Linked DNA regions of Homo sapiens: regions 1 and 3 are each linked to region 2. The links come from fine-mapping of genetic effects on gene expression. A gene starts in region 2. Each other region holds a variant in brackets. All regions are shown on one strand. Distances are from middle to middle.

What was found. PIP is the estimated chance that this variant, and not a neighbour inherited with it, causes the effect. A credible set is the group of variants that fine-mapping cannot tell apart.
Region 1: its variant is the best candidate, but not a certain one, in a credible set for the expression of VAMP2 in spinal cord (GTEx, PIP 0.77).
Region 3: its variant is the best candidate, but not a certain one, in a credible set for the expression of VAMP2 in whole blood (TOPMed, PIP 0.83).

What each region holds. Positions count from the first base shown.
Region 1 is chr17:7,504,745-7,512,921 of GRCh38, reverse strand. It overlaps POLR2A (RNA polymerase II subunit A), which reads right to left. Exons shown (of 30, transcript NM_000937.5): 20 at 4,447-4,671; 21 at 3,732-3,978; 22 at 3,290-3,390; 23 at 1,603-1,707; 24 at 1,334-1,516; 25 at 908-1,111; 26 at 578-764; 27 at 332-445; 28 at 1-148. Among named protein-coding and RNA genes, the nearest start is that of POLR2A, 24 kb to the right of the region's middle. RefSeq lists an enhancer at 456-1,655. The variant G/A (reference allele first, on the strand shown) is at 3,696.
Region 2 is chr17:8,158,334-8,166,495 of GRCh38, reverse strand. VAMP2 (vesicle associated membrane protein 2) reads left to right here and starts at 3,548. Exons shown (of 5, transcript NM_014232.3): 1 at 3,548-3,618; 2 at 4,127-4,247; 3 at 4,730-4,888; 4 at 4,972-5,023; 5 at 5,625-7,347. The coding sequence starts at 3,617. The coding sequence ends at 5,641. RefSeq lists silencers at 3,181-3,240, 3,371-3,470, 3,631-3,820, 4,111-4,220, 7,441-7,490 and enhancers at 4,331-4,380, 7,611-7,850.
Region 3 is chr17:8,194,169-8,202,345 of GRCh38, reverse strand. LOC124903913 (a long non-coding RNA gene) reads left to right here and starts at 2,118. Exons shown (of 2, transcript XR_007065604.1): 1 at 2,118-3,133. RefSeq lists enhancers at 1,921-2,410, 6,010-6,319. The variant G/A (reference allele first, on the strand shown) is at 4,997.

The sequences.
Region 1 (8,177 bases), 650 kb after region 2:
GGTGAAGGGATGTAGGGGCTTGAGGGACCTGGGGACCCCGGGGAGCCCGGTGTGGGAGACCAGGCAGGGGAGTAACCTGGGCTGAAGCCGCTGGCATCTGACGCAGCACTGGGAGAGAAGCCGGCTGCCCCTGGGGTCATTCCACTCCCTATAGAGTGAGAGAAGCAAGTTAAGGCCAGAGCGGGAGACCAAAGGCCCCCAATTCTCCCTGCCCCACCTTTCACTAGCCCTCTGCGGCCTTCAGAGTTCCAACAATGGCTACCGTTCACGATCCCAGCTTATCCACCTCTGAACCACCTGGAGGGCCCTCTTCCTGGATCAGGTTACTCACCAACACTGGGGGACCAGGCGCCATAGGCAGGGGTTGCACCCTGGTTCCAAGGTGTCATGGCAGGAGAGATTCCACCCATGGGACTGGGTGCTGAACCAAAGAACATGCCGGTGGCTGCAAAGAGGAACACAGGAAATCGTGAGGAGCAAGAACAGCAATCATGGACTGGTGACACCCTTGCACCCATGGCCTGCCCCCCCGCCTCGCCGACGCAAGCAGGTACCGCAGCTGGGGCCTCATACTCACGTCCAGCAGCCCCCAGGCCGGGGATATTGGTGGGGATCTCCATGCCATACTTGCACTTCTCTGCATCAAGCAGGAGGTCAAAGCAGCCAGTGCCGGCCGGAGCCAGCTGGCCCAGCATGATATTCTCAGAGACCCCCTTCATGGGGTCACTCTCACCGTGTGCGGCTGCTTCCATAAGCACGTCCACCTGAACAGAGCAGACCGGCCCCATGAGACCCCTCCACACACAGCACCTGACTGTCCCATCACCACAGCCCAGCTGCCCAAAGTGTGTGCCCTTCTTCTCACACTACTCCCTCCTTCTGCCCTATTCAGAAATTCCACTGTTACCGTTTCCTCAAAGGAACACTTCATGAGTGGTCCTGTGTCCTGGCGGTTGACTCCGTGTCGGGTGATGGCCATCAAGTGGCCACGACAGGTCATGGTATCACACAAGAGAGCCAAGTGTCGGTAATTGACATAGGAGCCATCAAAGGAGATGACGTGGTACAGCTCCCGCTCCAGGGCCTTCCGCACGGCTTCAATGCCCAGCACCTGGCACAGGGGAGGGAAGTGGAGGGGAGGGCCAGGACTGAGCAACTCTGCTCTCTTCCCTGCTTCTGTCGCCACCCAGATCCAGGGAGGGTGTCAGGAGCCAGGATATCCCACACTCAGAAATGGAATCAGGCAGAAAAAGTCCTGAGTGGACAGCACAGAATGAGGGGCCTGAGAGCCAGAGATCCACGAAAGGCAGCTAGGCAGCACACACGGGCTCACCGTGAAGATCTCCACAATGTCATTGGACGTGGTGCGTACGGGGTCCACGTCCTTCTCACTCAGCACCCGCATCAAGCTCACGCCGTCCGTCTCCAGGATCCACTCCTGCAGGGCCTTGAATTCCCCATCCTCCGTGATGATGATCTTCTTCTTGTTGTCTGTCTGTGGCAAGTGCATGTACACCTGTGGGAAGACAGCGTGCTCAGAGTAGGCAGGGAGGGGAGTGTGGGAGTGGGAGGAGGAAGGCGGTGGCAGAGGGGATGGCTGACCTTGCTGATCTGCTCGATGCCCTGCAGGGTCATATCTGTCAGCATGTTGGACTCGATGCAGCGCAGGAAGACATCATCATCCATCTTGTCCACCACCTCTTCCTCCTGCAGTGAGAGTGAGGTCAGCACTTGGCATCCTCTGGTCTCTTCCCCAGCTCTCGCCTCCAACTACAGCCTCTTTGAGGGCCAAACGAGTCAGTCACCAGGCTCTGCCCCTCACAGTTCCAGTGAGACTTTTTTTTTTTTTTTTTTGAGGTGGAGTCTCGCTGTTATCAGCCTGGGCTGGAGTGCAATGCCACGATCTCAGCTCACTGCAACCTCTACCTCCCATGTTCCTGCAATTCTCCAGTGAGACTTTTAATCCTGATTTTACAATATTAAAAGAAGCCTAAGGAAAGGCACCCAAATCCCACCACCCCGTCACAACTTCCACTCTTGTGCAGTCCTGCGCCTAGCGAGAGGCGGGCTCCACGTACATGTCATATCCTCCCAACTGCTGTACCCGAGCACACACCATTCCCTGCTCTGGCACTTCACTGTGTGTTCATCTAGGCTGCTGCTGGCATGACAGTGATCACTTCTAATGGCCATATACTGTATTCCATCAAGACCTATCAATGCTTTTATAACTGTTCTCTGACAGCAGTTCAGCAGTTAGTGAGTTCTTCAGTTTTTTGTTTTTGTTTTTTTAGAGATGGAGTTTCGCTTATTGCCCAGGCTGGAGTGCAATGGTGTGATCTTGCCTCACCACAACCTCTGCCTCCCATGTTCAAGCATTTCTCCTGCCTCAGCCTCCTGAGTAACTGAGATTACAGGCATGCGCCACCACGCCCGGCTCATTTTGTATTTTTAGTAGAGACGGGGTTTCTCCATGTCGGTCAGGCTGGTCTCGAACTCCCGACCTCAGGTAATCTGCCCGCCTTGGCCTCCCAAAGTGCTGGGATTACAAGTGTGAGCCACCATGCCCAGCCTGAGTTCTTCAGTTTTTATTACTAAAGCACCAGGTACCAACATGTGCCAAACAAGTATCTCAGGAGCCATGCCCAGGAGTGAAGTCACTGATCCAGCCTTTTCATGGGTCTTGTTATGGCTGTCACACGACTTCCCCTAGGACATAGCAATGCCTACTGCCCAACCTGCCCCCAAGTCTGGCCCCTGCCTCAGGGGTGGGGCTTGTATTCCCTAAGCAAAGCAAGCTGCAGGAGCCTTGGGGGAGGAGAGCCAAGTGACAGCGTGACAGGGAGGCACTCCTATCTCCTATTTCAACACCACCTGTTTTATCTACTCGGCCGGTGCTGTGGATTTTGAAAATCGTTGCTAATCACCATTCCCTATCCCTAAATTAGGTGGGTATGACTGGCCCCTCAATGTTTTTTTTATTTTTTGAGATAGTTTCACTCTTGTTGCCTCAGCCTCCCAAGTAGCTAGGATTACAGGCACATACCACCATGCCCGGCTAATTTTTATTTTTAGTAGAGACGGGGTTACTCCATGTTGGTCAGGCTGGTCTCGAACTCCTGAGCTCAGGTGATCCACCCGCCTCAGCCTCCCAAAGTGCTGGGATTACAGGCGTGAGCCACCGCGCCTGGCCGCCCCTCAATGTTGATTGCATCTTCTTTTCTTTGGTCTCTAACGTGATTCATGCGTTTTATACATGTGACACGCTGACTTCTAGGACCCCCATTACCTCTTGCATCTTGTTCTCATCGCTGTTCATGATGCGAATACGGAGCACCAGCTTCTCTGCATTGTCATCATTAAAGATGCAGTTCAAGTCGTCACCAAAACCTGGTGGGGTGAGGAGCCATGAGAAAGGCTGCAGCTAAGGGGACTGGCCCCAGCCACTGTCCACTCGCAGCTCTCTCTGAGCAAGGCTCTCTTTTGGCTCCCCGCTCCTCACAGAAACTTTCTTTTCATAGAACCCCCTGGAAAGGGGAAGGGAGAACATTCAGAAGAGAAAGGGAGTGCAGAGGGGACCTGGAGAGTTGGAGGATGCCTCGGAGGGGCGGAACTGGTACATGCATGGGGGTGAGGGTGGGTAGCTCTTTGGGGGCTCAAGTGCGGTGAACACGATAGGTGGTAGCCCAGAGAGC[G/A]GGGCTCCTGAGCCAGGCCAGCCCTCCTAGGCTTACCAGCATTGATCTTTTCAGCAATCTGCTCCATGGTGAGCTTCCGGTCAGTCATGTGCTTCCGATCCAGCTCCACCCGCAACAGCCAGGGGGAGATTCGGGCCACATCAAAGTCAGGCATTTCATAGTAGACATTCACCCATTCCTGATCCTCTGCCACCACCGTGCTCTGGGGGTTGGGGTCATAGTAGATGGCTGTGTTGGCAGTCACCTTCCTCAACGTTGTATGCTCCAGACGGCACAGAATATCCTGGGAAGAGACAGAAGTCCATGACACAGGGAACTGAGTAGCTCTAAACGTCTCTTCTAACCCTCCTTATCAAGGGAATCCAAAACCCTTTATTCAAGGGGAAAAGTTCTCCTTTTTTTTCTTTTTTTCTTTCAGATGGAATCTCGCTCTTGTTGCCCAGGCTGGAGTGCAGTGGCACAATCTCGGCTCACTGCAACCTCTGCCCCCCAGGTTCAAGCGATTCTCCTGTCTCAGCCCCAACTAGCAGCTGGGATTACAGGCACACACGACCATGCCCGGCTAATTTTTCTATTTTTAGTAGAGATGGGGTTTCACCACCTTGGCCAGGTTAGTCTTGAACTCCTGACCTCAGGTGATCCACCTGCCTTGGCCTCCCAAAGTGCTGGGATTACAGACATGAGCCACCATACCCAGTTGAGTTCTCCTTCTTTTCTTCCGGCCAAAAAGCCCAGCAGTCCTGATCCCTACCTTGGCTCTCTCAGCATCTCGAGCGGACTGGCCCAACAGGAAGACAGTAAGCGAAGGAGTCTTTGGCTTCTTGGAAATGTTGATGAGCTCCTTAAGTCGGGGCACACCCAGCGTCACATTCTTGGCAGACACACCAGCATAGTGGAAGGTATTCAAGGTCATCTGGGTGGCAGGTTCTCCAAGGGACTGCGCAGCCAGAGCCCCCACCATTTCCCCGGGATGCGCCTAAGAAAAAGCTAGCATCAGACAAAGCCAACGCCTCTCTTTCAGTGAATGAGTACGATGTGGATCTGCATCTGGCTTATCACAGGGCCAGGACTGTAATCTTAAAGGACATGGGTAGATGAGTTCGGAAAAGGCAGACAGACTCTTAACAAAAACAAAACTCTTATTTGATCATCCCCTTCCTCACACAAGAGCTTCCATTTATAGGACGCCATTTGGCACCTGGTATGCAGCACATCCAAAGAAAGCTACTATACCATCTGAGATCCAAATTTTTTCGAGACGGAGTCTCACCGTCGCCTAGGCTGGAGTGCAATGGCACGATCTCGGCTCACTGCAACTTCTGCCTCCCAGGTTCAAGCGATTCTCCTGCCTCAGCCTCCCAAGTAGCTGGAATTACAGACGCGTGCCACCACACCCAGCTAATATTTTTTTGTATCTTTAGTAGAGACGGGGTTTCACCATGTTGGTTAGGCTGGTCTCAAACTCCCGACCTCAGGTGATCCACCCGCCTTGGCCTCCCAAAGTGCTGGGATTACAGGTGTGGGCCTCTTCGCCCGGCCAAGATCCAAATTTCTAAACCTATGTTAAAATTACTCCGTAAATATTCATTTTATAACAGTTAGCTAAATAGGAAGCTCCCCGTATGTGTTATGAGATAGTCACATACGAAATTAAACTTAACTGGAATCACAGTATCTAACTTTTTCAGACTAATTTCTTCCATTAAGCAAGTATACATTTAAGGTTCATCACTGGCAAAGACAGAATTTCGTTATGCTGCCCAGGCTGGTCTCAAACTCCTGGGCTCTCGTGAGCCTCCTGCCTCGGCCTCCCAAAGTGTTGAGATTAGAGTTATGAGCCAGTGCATCTGGCTTATCACTGTCTTTTTGTGGCTTGACAGATTTTTTTTTTTTGAGATAGAGTCTCACTCTGTTGCCCAGGCTGAAGTACAGTAGCATGATCTCAGCTCACTATTGCAGCTTCAACCTCCTGGCCTCAGGTATCCTCCCACCTCAGCCTCCCAAGTAGCTGGGATTACAGGTGCACTCCACCACACCTGGCTAAATTTTTTGTAGAGATGGGGTTTTGTCATGTTGCCCAAGGGTGGTCTTGAACTTCTGGGCTCAAGCAATCTTCCCACCTCAGCCTCCCAAAGTGCTAGGATTACAGACATCAGCCACTGTGCTTGGCTGTCCGTTACTTTTTTTTTTTTGAGATGGTCTCCCTCTGTCGCCCAGGCTGGAGTGCGGTGGTGCAGTCTCAGCTCACTGCAACCTCTGCTGCCTGGGTTCAAGTGATCCTCCTGCCTTACCCTCCGAAGTAGCTGGGATAGCAAGCATGTAGCACCACACTTAATTTTTCTATTTTTGGTAGAGTTGGGGGTTTCACCATGTTGGGCAGGCTGCTGGTCTGGAACTCAAGTCATCTACCTGCCTTGGCCTCCCAAAGTGCTGGGATTACAGGCGTGAGCCACCACGTAGGCCCAGCCTGTTCATTACTTTTTATTGCTGAATGATGTTCCCTCATATGGACATATCACATTTTGCCTATCCATTCATCAGTGGATGGACACTTGTTTTCACTGCTTAGCTACTGTAACACTGATACGAACATTTGTGTATAAATGTTTGTGTGGCCATATGTTTTCTGTTCTCTCGTGTGTGTGTGTATAATCTCTCTAGGAACGAAACTGCTGGGCCATATGGTAACTGCTTTAACTTCCTAAAGCAGTTGTACCTTTTCTACTAGCAATGTATGAGGGTTCTAATTTTTCCACATCCTTGTCAACACTTGTTATTATCTGTGTTTTGGATTACAGTCATCCTAGTGCATGTGAAGTGGCACATCACTCTGGTTTCATTTGCATTTCCCTGATGGCTAATGATGTTGAGTATCTTTTCATGCACTTACTGATCATTTACATGAATAGTACTCTTCTTTGGGGAAACATGTTTTTTTTATTATTTATTTATTTATTTATGTATTTTTTAGTAGAGACGGGGTTTCACCGTCTTAGCCAGGATGGTCTCAATCTCCTGACCTCGTGATCTGCCCGCCTCGGCCTCCCAAAGTGCTGGGATTACAGGCGTGAGCCACTGCGCCCAGCCTGTTTTTTTATTTTATTACTATTTTTGAGACAGAGTCTCACTCTTGTTGCCCACGCTGGAGTGCAATGGCACTATCTCGGCTGATCGCAACCTCCACCTCCCAGGTTCAAGCGATTCTCCTGCCTCAGCCTCCCGAGTAACTGGGATTACAGGCATGTGCCGACATGCCCGGCTAATTTTGTATTTTTAGTACAGACGGGGTTTCTCCATGTTGATCAGGCTGGTCTCAAACTCCCAACCTCAGGTGATCCACCCGCCTCAGCCTCCCAAAGTGTTAGGATTACAGGCGTGAGCCACCACGCCCAGCCAGGAAACATTTGTTGAAATCCTTTGAGACTTTTTATTGTTGACTTTTTATTGTTATAGTCCTTTATATATTCTTTATGTATGGCCCTTATCAGATGATTTCCAAATATTTTCTCCCATTCTCTGTGTTATCTTTTTACTTTCTTGATAGTGTCCTACGAAGCATTAAGTTTTAAATTTTGATGAAGTCCAATTCATCTATTTTTTCCTTTGGATGCTTATGCTTTTGGTGTCATACCTAAGAATTCACTGCTAAGCCACAGTCATGAAGATTTATTCAAGTTTCCTTATAAGAGTTTTATAGTGTTAGCTCTTCAATTTAGGCATTTTGAGAGTTTTTGTACATGGTATGAGGTAGGAATCCAACTTCATTCTCTTGCATGTGGATATCTAGTTGCCCTAGCACCATTTGCTAAAAAGAGTATTCTCACCCCATTTAATTAAATTGGGACTCTTGCAAAAAATCAAGTGACCATAAATGTGAGGGTTTATTTCTGGACTCTCAATTCTACTCTATCAGTCTTTATACGTATCCTCATGACAGAAGCACAGTCTTGTTTACTGTAGCTCTGTAGTAAGTTGTGAAATCAGGAATGTGAGTTCTCCAAACTTTTGCTACTTTTAAATATTGTTTTGGCTATTCTATATCCCTTGCATTTCCATATGAATTTTAACATCAGCTTAATAAATTTCTGAGAAAAAGCCAGTTGGAATTTTGATAGGGATTATATTGGATCTATAGCTTATTTTGGGAAGTATATTAACAATATTAATATTCAACAATATTAAGTCTTCCAATCCATGAATATGAGAGGTCTTTCATTTAGGGTTTTTTTTTTTTTTTTTTGATACAGTCTCACTCTTGTTGCCCAGGCTGGAGTGCAATGGTGCAATCTCGGGTCACCGCAACCTCCATCCCCGGGTTCAGGTGATTCTCCTGTCTCAGCCTCCAGAGTAGCTGGGATTACAGGCATGTGCCACTATACCCTGCTAATTTTGTATTTTTAGTAAAGGTGGGGTTTCTTCCTGTTGGTAAGGCTGGTCTTGAACTCCTGACCTCAGGTGATCTGCCCACCTCGGCCTCCCAAA
Region 2 (8,162 bases):
AGCAGAGGTTGTAGTGAGCCAAGCTTGTGCCACTGCACTCCAGCTTGGGTGACAGAGGGAGACTGCCTCAAAAAAAATAATTAAAAAGGCCGGGCACAGTGGCTCACACCTGTAATCCCAGAACTTCGGGAGGCCAAAGTGGGCAGATCACCTGAAGTCAGGAGTTTGAGACCAGCCTGGCCAACATGGCGCAACCCTGTCTTTACTAAAAATAGAAAAATTAGCCAGGCATGGTGGCGGACGCCTGTAATCCCAGGGACTCGGGAGCCTGAGGCAGGAGAATCTCTTGAACCCAGGAGGCAGAGGTTGCAGTGAGCCGAGATCACGCCACTGCACTGCAGCCCCGGCCGACTTCTAAACCAGTAATTGTCTGAAGAGAAAAAAAAATTACGAAATAAGGCCGGGCATGGTGGCTCACGCCTGTAATCCCAGCACTTTGGGAGGCCACGGTGGGTGGGTCACCTGAGGTCAGGAGTTCGAGACCAGCCTGGCCAACATGGTGAAATCCCGTCTCTACTAAAAGTACAAAACGATTAGCCGGGCGTGGTGGTGCACTCCTGTAATCCCAGCCACTTGGGAGTCTGAGGCAGGAGAATCACTTGAACCCGGGAGGTGGAGGTTGCAGTGAGCCGAGATCGCACCATTGCACTCCAGCCTGGGCAAGAAGAGCGAAACTCCATCTTAAATATAAATAAATAAATAATAATAAAAATAAAAAATAAAAGAAAGCGTTTATGAAAGTGTGGTCTCGGCCAGGCGCGGTGGCTCAAGCCTGTAATCTCAGCACTTCGGAAGGCCAAGGCGGGCGGATCACGGGGTCAGGAGATCAAGACCACCCTGGCTAACACGGTGAAACCCTGTCTCTACTAAAAATACAAAAAATTAGCCGGGCCGGGTGGTGGGCGCCTGTAGTCCCAGCTACTCGGGAGGCTGAGGGAGGAGAATGGCGTGAACCTGGGAGGCGGAGTTTGCAGTGAGCAGAGATCGCGCCATTGCACTCCAGCCTGGGTGACAGACAGAGACTCTGTCTCAAAAAAGAAAAAAAAAGAAAAAAAAAAGAAAAAGAAAGTGTGGTCTCTGTTGCCTACATCACCATCACCTTGAGTCCTACATCCTTTGAATGAGTCTTGGGGGTGTGCCCTAGAAAATCATTGGCCAATTCCCGAAGCCAGTACATGTAGAAGCCAAATCTGAGTTATGCAAATACATTATTTTTCTATTGTTCAACTTACCTCTATTTGGGTCTCCATTCTACCTGCCTGCAGAAAACATTCTCTCAGTCACTTCCAGGTGAACTCCGTCATCCCACTCCTTCTCCCACCTCCACCATTGATCTAAATTTGGGGAGTTCCTCTGAGCCACAGCCTAGGTGGGGTGGGGTGGGAAGGGGCTGCTGGATGAGAGTCCTCTTTCTGAGATGAATCCTCCTGGGCCCTTCATCTCCGTGGGTCACACATGCCCTCATTTCTACTCTGCTGCTGCCGTCCCCACGATCCAATAGCAATAGCACGACCCCTGGCCTTGACCGTGTATCTGGGGCTCTGTCCCTTCCACATCACCCCCAAACCAGCATCAAATGTCTTGTCTGGCTCTGCACTAGGCTCCCCTCAGTTAGTGCAGGGTGTCCAACTGGGGGCGGAAGGGCTTCCTGTGCCTGCCTCTTCCAATCCTCCATGTCTTATTTATACCCTGACAGACACTGAGGGTTTTGAACTTAAAAGGCTGGAATTTGGCATCTTTGTTCTCTGACTAGAAAGAGGAATCATTTGAAGACCAAAAAGCAGGAGCCAGCATCTCACAGCATGATCTGAGACCCCCGTGGAAGCTGCTCTTTTCTTTCTCATCACATAGGCTGAGCCACCCGGGACTGTCAGTGCACAAGGACCAGGGACGCGGCTGCTCCTCTGAGGGGGAGGAAGCCAAGAGTATCTTCTCTTAGATTGGGCTGAGTTCCCACACCCAGCACACACATTCCCTGCTCACTCACCTCCCACAGACAGCTGGGAAATGACACCTCTGGTGACAGAGCCACTCTCCGGGCTTCTGTGGGGAGCGGGTGGGGCACTGCAGTGGGGGAGGATCTCACACCCGGAGGCCCTGGGAAGCCAGGGTGGGGGAGGGAGGAAGCTGGTTCCTGTTTGTCTTAGAGATCAAGGCCATCAGCCTCCCTGCACCTTCCAGGGATGTAGTAAGCACCCCCACCCCAGGGCCAAAGGGCCTCGCCTAAAATGCCTCCTGCACCCTTGAGGCTTGCTTTGACCCCCTGCACTCCACCAGAGCGACAGCTCCCCTGGTCCCATCTTCTCTGACAAGCTGGGTGGGAGTGTATACAGCTGCTGGGTGTGCTTAGAGGGCCTAATGGAGACCAGCCAGGGATAATCTCCTATGTTATCCACATCAAGCCATTTAACAAATATGGATTTAGTACCTACATATGCAATGTATTTGGGGTCCAGAGAGAGGAGGGCAACGGTCCAAGGTCACACCTGCGAGGCGAATACGCATGTAAAGCAGCACCTTGTAACCTGTGCCCACTGTGCCTACTACTAAAGAAAAAAAAATGAGAGAAAAAGAAAAAAGGCTTTTTTTTTTTTTTTGGCCCAGGCCCTGTGCCTGGGACCAAAGCCTGAGCCCTTTCCTGCAGTCGGGTCGCTGACCTAAGCCTGGGGCAAAGCTAGGTCTTGGCCAGTCAGCAGCCACCACGTGAAGCAGCCCCTGCCCCCATCACCCCCGGCAGCCTTGTGCCCTCCTCCTCGGGGTCCTCAGCTCACCCCACCTCAGTCGGGCCTGCTCCAGCGGTTAAGTACCCCTAGTCTGAACCTTAATCGTGAGGCGGGGCAGCCCCCTCCCCACACCCTGTAGACACTCCCCCGTCCTCCGCCCCCTGGACTTGTTTGGGCGGGAAGAGCCTGCCTCATCTTTTCTTCCTACCCTCCTACCCAGTGGCCAGGGACCCCAGGCTTCCTCTGAGACATCCACCAGCGGTGATGGGTTGGGACCAATCTCCCCCACTCCTCTCCACCCTAGCAGTAAGGTCCCCGCTCTCGATACTGCCCCAGCACCTGCACTGGCCCTCTCTGATTTCCCAACTCCAGCCCATTCCAAGTGCTGAAGGCGGGTCGCTAGGTGCTGGGACCTGGGCGCGGGGCAAGACCTTGGGCTGTGTGGGGTGCAGGCTGGTTTACTGGGTTCACGATTGAGGGAGTGGTCTGGGGGTTAGGTGTAGGGCCAGGCTGCGTTGTGCTCTAAGGGGCAGGCGGCAGGCGGTTTGGGGGGGCTGTGGTCAGACAGGGTGGGGTGGCGGTGGGTTTGGGGAAGCCGCAGCAGCCCGCCTTGGGGTCCCGCGAGTGCCGAGGGAGCTGCCGGGGCATGGTGGCGCGGGGCCCGTGGTCCTGCCCGGCACGACCCCCGCCCCGCAGCGCCCCGCAGCGCCCCGCCCCCGCGGCCCCGCTCGCGACGCGTCTCCCGCGGCGCCCCGCCCCCGCCCGCAGTGCCCGGATGCGGGTGACGCGCGGCCGCCATCTTTCCGTCCCGGGCAGCCAGCGCCAGTCGGAGCCAGCGCGAGCCGCCGCCGCCATCACTGCCGCTGCCAAGTCCTCCACCCGCTGCCCCCGCCATGTGAGTCGGCCGCCCGCCACCCTCACCGCGCTTCCCTGCGCCGGCCGCCGCCCTTGGCAACCGGCCGTCGGGAGTGCCCGGGGTCTCTCCTGCGTTCCCCGCGCCCCGGGGCCAGGCCCAAGCCGGTGACTGCGCGCGGGCGGCCGAGGAGCCCCGCGTCCCGGGCTGGCCGGCTCGGGCGATGGCCGCGGGAAGGAGCGGACCCAGTGTCCTCCTGCCCCTCCCCGCCCCTGTCACCGCGGCCGCCTGTCTTTTCGGGTCGACCCGGATCGCATCTGTGAGGTCGCCCTCAGTTGACAGGCGGGGAAACTGAGGCCGGGGGGGCCTCGCTCAAGGTCACGCAGCTCATCGGCGGCAGGGCTGGACCGAGACCAGGGCTTACATCGGGTGGCCTTCCTCCCGAAAAGGAGGACTGGAGGGACGAGGATGGACAGGTGGATGGGCGGAGCCCTGGCTGCGGGGCCGGGAGGCTGCAGGCCCTGGGTCTTAATCCGTCCCTGCTCCTCAGGTCTGCTACCGCTGCCACGGCCCCCCCTGCTGCCCCGGCTGGGGAGGGTGGTCCCCCTGCACCCCCTCCAAACCTCACCAGTAACAGGAGACTGCAGCAGACCCAGGCCCAGGTGGATGAGGTGAGTGTGGGGGGAGTCAAAAGCAGTAGGAGGGACCCTGGGGGTTGGCGTATAGGTGTAGGGGCCCATGTTGGTTTGGGAGTGATGACAGTTCACGCCTGTGGGTTTGCGGACAAAGATACCATGCCCCATCCCTGTCTCCCTGTCAGCACGCACTTGGAAGGGCGCTGGGGGTGTTAATCAGCTTTGCTAGCCTGGGGTGTGCCAGCCTGGGCAGGTGTGCTCTGGTGATGGACAGAGCGCCTGAGGTTCCATAGAGGGAGGGTGTTGCTATGACATCTGAGATGTCACCAGCATGCCCCTGATGTGTGCTCCTTGCATGTCCCCAGGTGTGCTAGGCATGTTCTGTGTGTCCTTGGCATGTTAACCTGGCAGTATCAGGGTGCATGTTCCATGTGTGGCACGGTGGGCACATGTTTGAGGATTGCCCTCACTGAGGTGGGCCTTGGCACACCCCCCTGCCTCGTGGGCCCTTCTCCCAGGTGGTGGACATCATGAGGGTGAACGTGGACAAGGTCCTGGAGCGAGACCAGAAGCTGTCGGAGCTGGACGACCGTGCAGATGCACTCCAGGCGGGGGCCTCCCAGTTTGAAACAAGCGCAGCCAAGCTCAAGCGCAAATACTGGTGGAAAAACCTCAAGGTAAGGGTGGGGACAGGAAGGAGGACAGGTGGGTGAATGGGGTATCATAGTTTGTCTTACTGATCCTCGCCTCTCACCCCCAGATGATGATCATCTTGGGAGTGATTTGCGCCATCATCCTCATCATCATCATAGGTGAGTAGGGTGAGAATGGCCGGGGCCCTTTCCCTGGAGAGGTTTCCCCAGTGGATTCTAGGTTTTGAAGGTCATTAATCTAGTTTTTACTCTTCAGCCAAAAACACATATAGCTGCTAATGGCAATTCTGATTCATCTAGAGCCAAAAACTTTGATGTTATTTAGCCTGCATTTTGCCTAGTTCTTGGCAGTCTTGTTAACATTTGGAAATAGGAAAGCTGGTGTATCCATTGAGGACCCTTTAGGCCTAAGAGCCCAGTCTGAGAACCCTGGAATTGAGGAGTGGGAGAAAGGAAAGGACCAGGGGCTTGAGACATGACCAGGAAGCCAACCACCCCATTATTTGAGAGCTTGCGGTCTCAGAGGCTCAGAGGATTAGGGTCTGTGGCTTCAAGGCCATACCATGGAGCGGAAGGGACCTCAGAACCTACCTGTCTAGCCCCTTGCTTTGTAGATGGAAAAACTGAGTCCAAGAGAGGGTGTCAGCCAGCTGGGGAGTGGGGAGGATTGGAGCAGGGCCAGGCCTGACACACTGCTTTCTTGTTCTCTCTCTTTCTCTCCCCTCTCCCTCTTCCTCATCTTCTTCCCCTCTCTCCACAGTTTACTTCAGCACTTAAATCCCCGAGGAGTCTGCCCTGCCTAGAGAAGGGCCTCTCCCCCAACCCTCAGCCGTTCCTCCACCTCTCAGCCATATCTTTCAGCCCCCACTCCCCTGGATCCGTGTGTGTGTGTGTCCGTGTGTGTGTCCCCCTGTAAATAGCCAGCTGTTATTTATACATATATAATATTATATATATTTGGTCTGTTTGTAGTTTTATTACTAGATGATTTTTCCGGTTGTCCTTAACACCCCTTCCTGAGGTTCCCTTCACCCCTCTCTCTTGCCTTCCTTCCCTTTCCCTTTCTTCCTGACTAGCCCCAAGTCCCTTCATTTGCATCTGCTATGCAATAGTCCCTCTCCTTTCCTTCTTCTTCCCTCAGATTTAGCTGATCCTTCCTCCCACCCTGGCCTTCCTTTCCTCTTTCCTCCTCACTCTCCCCGTCATGCTCCCTCTGCCCCGCCCTCAAAAAAAAAAAAAAAAAAAAAAAAACAACAGCACCTGTCCAGGCTTCCTTAGGTACATCTTCTTTGTATCCATTGGGAGGCTCTGAGACTGGCCCCACTTGGTCCTAAGAATCCCAAGGTCTTTGGGAGCGTCCAGCATGTTAATTAGCGTATCATTACATACTGCTATCCCTTTCCATTTCTTTTTGTTCCATCACTCTTCTCTCAACCTGTGTTTCTTTTTTTACTGAGGAGTTAGTCCCCATTAGTTCTTGTATCACATTTTCATTTGCACGACATTACTCGCAGGTGGTGGGGAGCCTGGGCTTTTGGGGAACCAGGCTGCTCTGGTCCCCAGCATTGCCTCCTCCTAGCCCCTCTAGTCCAGTTTGCCTCCCTTACCCTCATTTTCCAAACCTCTTGTACCCTCCTCTCCCTCCCCCAGCTGGTATGTAAGTGTCTTGAAGTTCAGTATGTTATGATGGACCAATAATTCTGCCACTTCGGGTTTCTCCCTACATTCCTGCTCCCCAGTTTTCATGTGGGGTACTCAACTGACATTCCCATGGGGTTTCCCTCCCATCTGCCTGATCCACCTCCTCCTCCCACCAGGAGAGTTGGGGGTTGGCCACAATTGATCTCTTGTGAGAGGGGTGGCTACCAGTGTGTGTGTGGGGGTCATCACTGCCTTGGGGAGGAGTGGGGCAGGGCAGAGAATCCCCCCAATTCCTGCCTGAAATCTCTGGCCTCACCCCTGCTGGGGGTTGGACTGAAAACCCTCCTCCCCAATTTGGGGGGTGTTGCCCCATCACTGCCCAGCTCCTCTGACTGCCCCCCCTGAATTTAGGGTGGGGGTACTAGTCACTGCCAATGTGTGTATGGGACTTGCTGGAAAACGGGGATGCTTGCCCCTCTCCAGGACTATTGAGCCCAGAGAGAGCTGTCCTCTCATTGGGTGAACTGATTGAGGAAGGGTCTATTGTCTTTTTAAATGGCACAATTTTAAGGGTTTGAGGGTACAGTCCCTTAACCTGCCACGGGAGGGGGCCCCCAAACTTTCTTCCCCCCACACTTCTGGTTTTCTGTGTGGAGGGGGAGCAGGGATATCTAAGCTGTGGTGTGAAAGGGTAGGAGAGATGCTGGAGGTGGGGGTGCTGTGTTTTAGACCCCCCATATTATCCCAGTGTCCCCTGCCCCCCTCTTCCCCCACCCCATGCCCCCAATTCTGTGGCGCATCCAGATTGTGAAAATGTACAATAAATGTGTAATGAGTAACCAGGTGTTGTCTAAGATCTTTTTTATTTTTCTATTTTTTTTTTTTGGTTGGGGGAGAATAAGATCTTTTCTTAACCAATGGGAATAATATTGGATCGGAAGGTATACCAGGAAGGTTGAGAAGATACATTGGTAATGGACTGGACTTTGCAAGAGGCCCTGACCTTGGGCAGGGCAAAGTGTGATTCTCAAAGTGGCCACAGGGGGGCACTAGGAGTTGGTAATGGGAAGTGTCATAGCCAGCCCGTGTCTCTAAGCCCGGTGCGCCCTGTGGTCTAGGGTTCCCAGCTTTCGTTTCCCTTTACTGGGGCATGTTCCTGCTGTTGGACTCCTTTCTACTCCTCGATTTAACTTCTAGACGCTCTGCCGTGGCTCCCGTGCAGCAGTAGATGAAGTAGTTGGCCATTTCTGTGAAGCATGTCTTCCCCTCTGTGCCTAACCCAGTGCCAGCGCCCAGATGGGGTTAGTAAATTGTGGTTTAAATAGGCTCACAGAGACAAAGCTGAGTATGTTGTGGAGCTGCCTGTAGATGGCCTACTACCCCTGTACTCTGTTGTATGACTTGTGACTTTAGACCCCACACTGAACTGCCACAGCCTGTAGGTCCAGGAGGCCCCGATGTGGCATCTTAGTATCCCTGTTCCCAGGTGCTTCAACAATGAGTGGCCGGCCGCGGTGGCTCACGCCAGTAATCCCAGCCCTTTGGGAGGCCGAGGTGGGCGGATCACGAGGTCAGGAGTTCAAGACCAGCCTGGCCAACACAGTGAAACCACATCTCTACTAAAAATACACACAAAAAATTAGCCGGGGATGGTGGC
Region 3 (8,177 bases), 36 kb before region 2:
ATACTCCGCCTCAAGAAAAAAAAAAGTATGGTAAATACCCAAAGCAAATCAAAATAAAACAGTGAAAAGACTTGGAACTGGCTATCTCTAGGGAGAAAGAAATGGGCGGGGTGCTTATTTATTTTTTATTTTTTGAGACGGAGTTTTGCTTTGTCACTCATGCTGGAGTGCAGTGGCACAATCTCAGCTCACTGCAACCTCCACCTCCCAGGATCAAGCGATTCTCCTGCCTCAGCCTCCCGAGTAGCTGGGATTACAGGCATGTGCCACCACGCCCAGATAATTTTTGTATTTTTAGTAGAGATGGGTTTCACCATGTTGGCCAGGCTGGTCTCAAACTCCTGACCTCCAGTGATCCACCCGTCTGGGTCTCCCAAAGTGCTGGGATTACAGGCATGAGCCACTTCACCCATCCTGTAATTTTCTTTCTTTCTTTTTTTTTTTTTTTTGAGACAGAGTCTTCTGTCACCGAGGCTGGAGTGCAGTGGCACGATCGCGGCTTACTGCAAGCTCTGCCTCCTGGGTTCACGCCATTCTGCTGCCTCAGCCTCCCGAGTAGCTGGGACTACAGGCGCCCACCACCACGCCCAGCTAATTTTTTTTTTTTTTTTTGTATTTTTTAGTAGAGACGGGGTTTTCACCATGTTAGCCAAGATGGTCCCGATCTCCTGACCTCGGGATCCGCCCGCCTCGGCCTCCCAAAGTGCTGGGATTACAGGCGTGAGCCACCGCGCCCGGCCTTTCAGCCTATAATTTTTAATAAGGATATCCCTAGGGTTTTTTTTAAAGCTCTTCTACTGGATGCACATGCAGATTATTTCCAATGCTTTGCACTGTGGCCAGTGTCTTTTGAGTGCCTCCTGTGCACCTTTGTGATGGTCTCTAGTTGTCCTCTAGGGGACATCTGAAGAAAGACATGGCAATGGAGAGTACCAGCATCTAGAGAAAGACGTGGTAATGCTGGGTACACGCAGGTAAACGGTCTATAGATATCACCAAAAATGCCCCTCTAAGTGGTGGACAGTTTACACTCCCACCGGCAATAATGAAGGACACCTATTTTCCCACAGCCTTAACGCTGACTCCTACTTCTACTGTTACCTGCGGGTAAGCCTGCAGCTATCCGGGAAACTCCGGAGTTGCAACTCTGCAGCAACCTCTCTCCTCTGTTTTCTCGAGGGCAAGAATTCAAACGAGATAAAGGCAAGGTTTTTGCTTTTTCTCAAGACGGAATCTTGCTCTGTTGCCCAGGCTGGAATGCAATGGCGCGATCTCGACTCACTGCAACCTCCGCCTCCTGGGTTCAAGCGATCCTCCTGCTTCAGCCTCCCGAGTAGCTGGGATTACAGGCACGCGCCACCACGCCCGGCTAATTTTTGTATTTTTAGTAGAGACGAAGTTTCACCATATTGCCCACGCTGGTCTCGAACTCCTGACCTCGTGATCCGCCCCCTCCTCGGCCTCCCAAAGTGTTGGGATTACAGCCGTGAGCCACCGCACCCGGCCAAAGGCAAGGTTTAAGGCAGAAGGGAGAACTGATTTTAAGCCAAGTGAGAGTTTATTACAAGACAGTACACTTAGAAGAGGACAAGGCTGGAGACTTGAAAAATCAAGCGCCCCTTCCTTTTCTTTGTTTAGAGTTTTTTGTTTTTTGTTTTGAGACGGAGTCTCGCTCTGTCGCCCAGGCTGCAGTGCCGTGGCACAATCTCGGCTCACTGCAAGCTCCGCCTCCTGGGTTCAGGCTATTCTCCTGTCTCAGCCTCCCGAGCAGCTGGGACTACAGGCGCCCGCCACCACGCCCGGCTAATTTTTTGTATTTTTAGTAGAGATGGGGTTTCACTGTGTTAGCCAGGATGGTCTCGATTTCCTGATCTCGTGATCCTCCCGCCTCTGCCTCCCAAAGTGCTGGGATTACAGGCGTGAGCCACCGCGCCCGGCATGTTTAGAGATTTTACACCCCCTACGTTTTCCCGCACTCTCTGTCTCCTCCTTATGTTCTTCCCTTGAGCGGGCTGTGGCTTAATTGCCGCATGCGCAGTGGCCTGCCGGCGTTTGGGAGGGACCGCATGCGCAGTGTTCACCGAAGTCCAGCGCATGCTCGTTAGGGGCAATTCGCCCTTTCTGGTCCAGAGCCCCCACAGGAAGGTTAGATACCGATCAAATTCAACCATTTTCTTTTTTCACTGCACATACTTAAAACCTTATAGGGGTGATGGCTTGCTAACTCCTGTTGCAAGACTCCTCTTACTCCCAGCACCAGCGATGGCCACTTATTATCTCAGACGGATGGTTGTATGCCTGCCGGTCCTTCACTCGATGAGAACCAGCTTGGGGGTTCTTCCCTTCTCGTGCTCATTATGTCAGAGGGACAGATTTCTAATCGCTTGACCATGGCTTGACAAATGCCCAGCATACCTGGAGGCCCTCTTTCCTGCCTTCATGTCTACCTACTCTAACATTACAAAGCATCCCCAATATATTGGCTTTTCTACTCCCGAAAACACCAAAGCTCCCCACAGCTCCCACACTAGTGATACCCCCTCTTCTCTGAGAAACAGCAGAACCAAACAGGGGTCTTGTACATTCCAATCACCAATTGCCCCAAGTTACCTCTGTTCACCTATTATCTGTCTTTCCCCTTCTCAAGTCCTGTCAGGGAGCCCCTCCAGATATACTCTGAACCCAGGCCTCCTACTATTCAACAACTTCATTCCAGTAATTGTCCCCTTTCGCTTTTCTACCATTTATATATATATATATATGTGTGTGTGTATACACACACATATCTATATCTATATCTATATCTATATATCCTTTTTTTTTTTTTGGCTGGATAAGTCTCATCACCATGCAAACATCTAGCATCCAAAAAAAAAAAAAAAAATAGGCCAGGGAGTTTGGCTCAGGCCAACTTTATATCTGTAAGCTCTGCCTCAATATCTGTGTGGAGAAGAGTGACGACAGACTGACACAGGCAGCCAAGGTGTTGGAGCAACTCACAGGCCAGACCCCTGTGTTTTCCAAAACTAGATGCACTGTCAGATCTTTTGTTTTCAGGAGAAATGAAAAGATTACTGTTGACTGCACAGTTCCAGGGGCCAAGGCAGAAGAAATCCTGGAGAAAGGTCCAAAGGTATGGGAGTATGAATTATTTTTTCTTAACTTCTCAGATACTGGAAACTTTGGTTTCCAGGAACACAAGAATCTGGGTATCAAATATGAAATCTTTGGCTGCGACTTTCTTTCTTTTTCTTTTTTTTTTTTGAGACAGGGTCTCACTCTGTCATCCAGGCTCAAGTGCAGTGGTGTGATCACAGCTCACTGCAGCCTTGAACTTGTGGGCTCAAGCAATCCTCCTGCCTCAGCCTCTGGAGCAGCTGGAACCACAGGTGCACACCACCACACCCGGGTAATTTTTTTTTCTCTTGTAGAGATGGGGTCTTATTATGTTGCCAAGGCTGGTGTTGAACTCCTGGGCTCAAGCGATCCTCCCACCTCGGCCTCCCAAAGTGCTGGGATTATAGGCTTGAGCCACTGTGCCAAACCCATGGTTTTATTTTTATTTTATTTTTGAGATGGAGTCGCTCTGTCACCCAAGCTGGAGTGCGGTCGCACAGTCTCAGCTCACTGCAACCTCCGCCCTCCGGGTTCAAGCAATTCTCCTGCCTCAGCCTCCCGAGTAGCTGGGATTACAGGCGCGTGCCACTGTGCCTAGCTAATTTTTATATTTTCAGTAGGGGTTTCACCATGTTGGCCAGGGTGATCTTGAACTCCTGACCTCAGGTGATCCACCCGCCTCAGCCTCTCAAAGTGCTGGAATTACAGGCGTGAGCCACTGTGCCCGGCCCAGCCCGTGGTTTTAAATACGACTCCCACATTTGTATTTCTCACCTTGACGTCCCTATCAAGCTTGAGACTAACACATTCTTGGCAATCTAATAGGCTTCTCAAAGTAAGCATGCCTAAAATAGTACTTTTTTTTTTTTTTAGACAGAGTTTTGCTCTGTTGCCCAGGCTGGAGTGCTGTGGCATGATCTCGGCTCACTGCAACCTCTGCCTCCCGGGTTCAAGCGATTCTCCTCCCTCAGCCTCCTGAGTAGCTGGGATTACAGGCACACGCCACCATGCCCAGCTAATTTTTTTTTTTTGTATTTTTAGTAGAGACGGGGGTTTCATCATGTTGGCCAAGCTGATCTCGAACTCCTGACCTCAGGTGATCCCCCGACCTTGGCCTCCCAAAGTGCAGGGATTACAGGCGGGAGCAACCACGCCTGGCCTAAAATAGTATTCTTAATTCAGTGCCCACCCAATCAAAAAAGTTGTAACTTCCCCATCTCAGTCAATAGCACTATCATTTAGCACCCAGTTACTTGGGTCAAAAACCTAGAAATCATTCCTGGTTTCTCTCTTTTTTCTTCCTCACCTCCCCAGATCTTCCAACTCTTCCTATTGCCAACCAAATCCATGGAGAGGCCCACCTTTATTACACACACACCCCATCACTCTCATGCTGGTTCAAGTCACCATCCTTTCTGGCTTGGGTGATAACAACCTCCTAACTATTCTCTCTGCTTCTTCTGTTCCTGCCTCCTAGAGTCCATTCCCCCAACAGTCAAAGTCAGAGCATATCATTCCTCTGTTCAAAACCCTCCTTTGGTTTTTCGGTGTATTTACAATAAAATCAAAACTCCTTATCATGGCTGGCAAGGTCCTATCTTCAGGGGTTATCAACAATGGCTGCACATTAGAAACATCTGAAGGACTTAAAAAGAAAATAGGAGACCGGGCGCGGTGGCTTACGCCTGTAATCCCAGCACTTTGGGAGGCTGAGGCGGGCGGATCACGAGGTCAGGAGATCAAGACCATCCTGGCTAACACGGTGAAACCCTGTCTCTACCAAAAATACAAAAAAAAATTACCTGGGCGTGGTGGTGGGTGCCTGTAGTCCCAGCTACTCAGGAGGCTGGGGCAGGAGAGTGGCATGAACCCAGGAGGC[G/A]GAGCTTGCAGTGAGCTGAGATCGTGCCACTGCACTCTAGCCTGGGCGACAGAGCGAGATTCCGTCTCAAAAAAAAAAAAACCAAAAAACAAAAAACTCCCAGGCCTTGCCCTAACAAATTCAGATTTCATTGATCTGGGTTGAGGCTGGAGCATCCATGTCGCTTTTAACTCCCCAGGTGGTTCTGAGGGGTTCAGAAGCCCTTCCCTAAGAGTTCTGGTCCTTCCCCACCAATGGATGCTCCTCTGTAACTGCTCTTCCACTTCCATCACTAAAGCTCTGACCTCGGCTGGGCGCGGCAGCTCATGCCTGTCATCCCAGCACTTTGGGAGGCCGAGGCGGGTGGATCACCTGAGGTCTGGGGTTCAAGACCAGCCTGGCCAACATGGTGAAATCCCATCTGTACTAAAAATACAAAAAAAAAAAAAAAAAAAAAAAATTAGCCGGGCGTGGTGGCGGGTGCATGTAATCCCAGCTACTTGGGAGAATGAAGCAGAAGAATCTCTTGAACCCCGGGAGTGGAGGTTGCAGTGAAGCAAGATTGGGCCATTGCACTCCAGCCTGGGCAACAAGAGGGAAACTCCATCTCAAAAAAAAAAAAGAAAAGAAAACAAAGACATCATCTCCTCACACGTGAAAATTCCAAGTATCCAGAGCAAGAGCCATCCCCAAATGTAATGTAAAACCATGGCATAATTCTACATGCCACATAAAACCTGCATTCCACCCCCATCCCACTCAACAAGCCCTACAGACAATACAAGGGCTGATGCCCTGGGGTATGGGGAGAAAACTGTCCTAGTTGACATTCTTCTAAATGCTGAGCATAGCTGACTGGGGCATTTGTTCATTTTTGGGACTTGATGATCACCTTACCTTCCCACTGAATGGATGATGCCAAAAAAAGAAAGCAGAAAAGATATCCAGCCTTGCTTGTTCCCCTGATAGGTCGGCAGATAACTTCTCTCTACTTCTGTGAAGTAATGTGGGCACTGGCAACATTGAGGGTGGGTAATCTGACCCCCACCCCTACTGTGGCCTATGGAGGGGTGAGACCTGTGGATGATCGAGCTTTCACTTTGAGTCAGCATGTCTCACTTTGAATTCCTTCACCATTGCTTATTAGCCATGTGACCTTGGCCAAGTTATTTTTGTATTTTTGTGAGTCTTTTTTTTTGAGACAGACTCTGTCACCCAGGCTGGAGTGTGGTGGCGCTGTCTCAGCTCACTGCAACCTCCGCCTCCTGGGTTGAAGCGATTCTAATAGAGACAGGGTTTCACCATGTTATCCAGACCAGCCTTGAACTCCTGACCTCAAGTGATCCACCTGCCTCGGCCTCCCAAAGTGCTGGGATTACAGGCGTGAGCCACGGCACCCAGCCAGCCACTGCGCCTGGCCTTTTGTGAGTCTTTAAGATGGAAATAACAGTCATTTCTTACGTATAACATGGGCTGTTCCCAATTGCATTAATATACATAGACATCTTGTTTTGTTTTGTTTTGTTTCGTTTGTTTGTTTTGAGATGGAGTCTCACTCTTGTTGCCCAGGCTGGAGTGCAATGGCATGATCTCCGTTCACTGCAACCTCCACCTCCCAGGTTCAAGTGATTCTCCTGCCTTAGCCTCCCGAGTAGCTGGGATTACAGGCATGCGCCACCACACCCAGCTAATTTTTATATTTTTAGTAGAGACAGGGTTTCACCATGTTGGCCAGAATGGTCTCTAACTCCTCACCTCAGGTGATCCACCGGCCTCGGCTTCCCAAAGTGTTGGGATTACAGATGTGAGCCACCGTGCCTGGCCCTTACATAGAAATTTTTACTTTCTAAAAATAATATTTTAAAATGCTGTTGGGGGCTGGGCGCAGTGGCTCACGCCTGTAATCCCAGCACTTTGGGAGGCTGAGGCGGGCCAGGTGGGGCGAGGTGGATCACGAGGTCAGGAGATCGAGACCATCCTGGCTAACACGGTGAAACCCCGTTTCTTCTAAAAATACAAATAATTAGCCGGGCATGGTGGCGGGCGCCTGTAGTCCCAGCTACTGGGGAGGCTGAGGCAGGAGAATGGCATGAACCCGGGAGGCAGAGCTTGCAGTGAGCCGAGATCATGCCACTGCACTCCAGCCTGGGCGACAGAGTGAGACTTCGTCTCAAAATAAATAAATAAATAAAACAAAATAAAATAAAATGCTGTTGGAGGCCAGGCACTGTGGCTGATGCCTGTAATGCTAGCACTTTGGGCAGATCATCTTAGGTCAGGAGTTTGAGACCAGCCTGGCCAACAAGGTGAAACCCTGTCTCTACTAAAGATAAAAAAATTAGCCGGGTGTGGTGGCATATGCCTGTAGTCCCAGATACTCAGGAGGCTGAGGCAGAGAATCGCTTGAACCCGGGAGGCGGAGGTTGCAGTGAGCTGAGATGGTGCCACTGCACTCCAGCCCGGGCAACAGAGCAAGACTGTGTCTCAAAAAACAACAACAATACAACACACAAAAAAAAGACAATACATAAGTGAATGAACATAGCTGTGTTCCAATAAAAATTTATAGACTCTGAATTTTTTTTTTTTTTTTTTTTTTGGAGACAGCGTTTCATTCTGTTGCCCAGGCTGGAGTGCAGTGGTGTGATCTTAGCTCACTTCAACCTCTGCCTCCTGGGTTCAAGCAATTCTCGTGCTTCAGCTTCCCGAGTAGCTGGGACTATGGGCACACATCACCATGCCCAGCTATTTTTTTTTTTTTTTTTGAGATGAAATGTTCTGTCGCCCGGGCTGGAGTGCAATGGAGCGACCTTGGCTCACTTCAACCTCTGCCTCCTGGGTTCAAGCAATTCTCGTGCTTCAGCTTCCCGAGTAGCTGGGACTATGGGCACACATCACCATGCCCAGCTATTTTTTTTTTTTTTTGAGATGAAATGTTCTGTCACCCAGGCTGGAGTGCAATGGAGCGACCTTGGCTCACTGCAACCTCTGCCTCCCTGGTTCAAGCGATTCTCCTGCCTCAGCCTCCCGAGTAGCTGGGATTACAGGCACCCGCCAATATGCGCGTCTAATTTTTGTATTTTTAGTAGAGACGGGGTTTCACCATGTTAGTCAGGCTGGTCTGGCACTGTTAACCTCAGGTGATCTGCGCACCTCGTCCTCCCAAAGTGCTGGGATTACATGTGTGAGCCACCACGCCCGG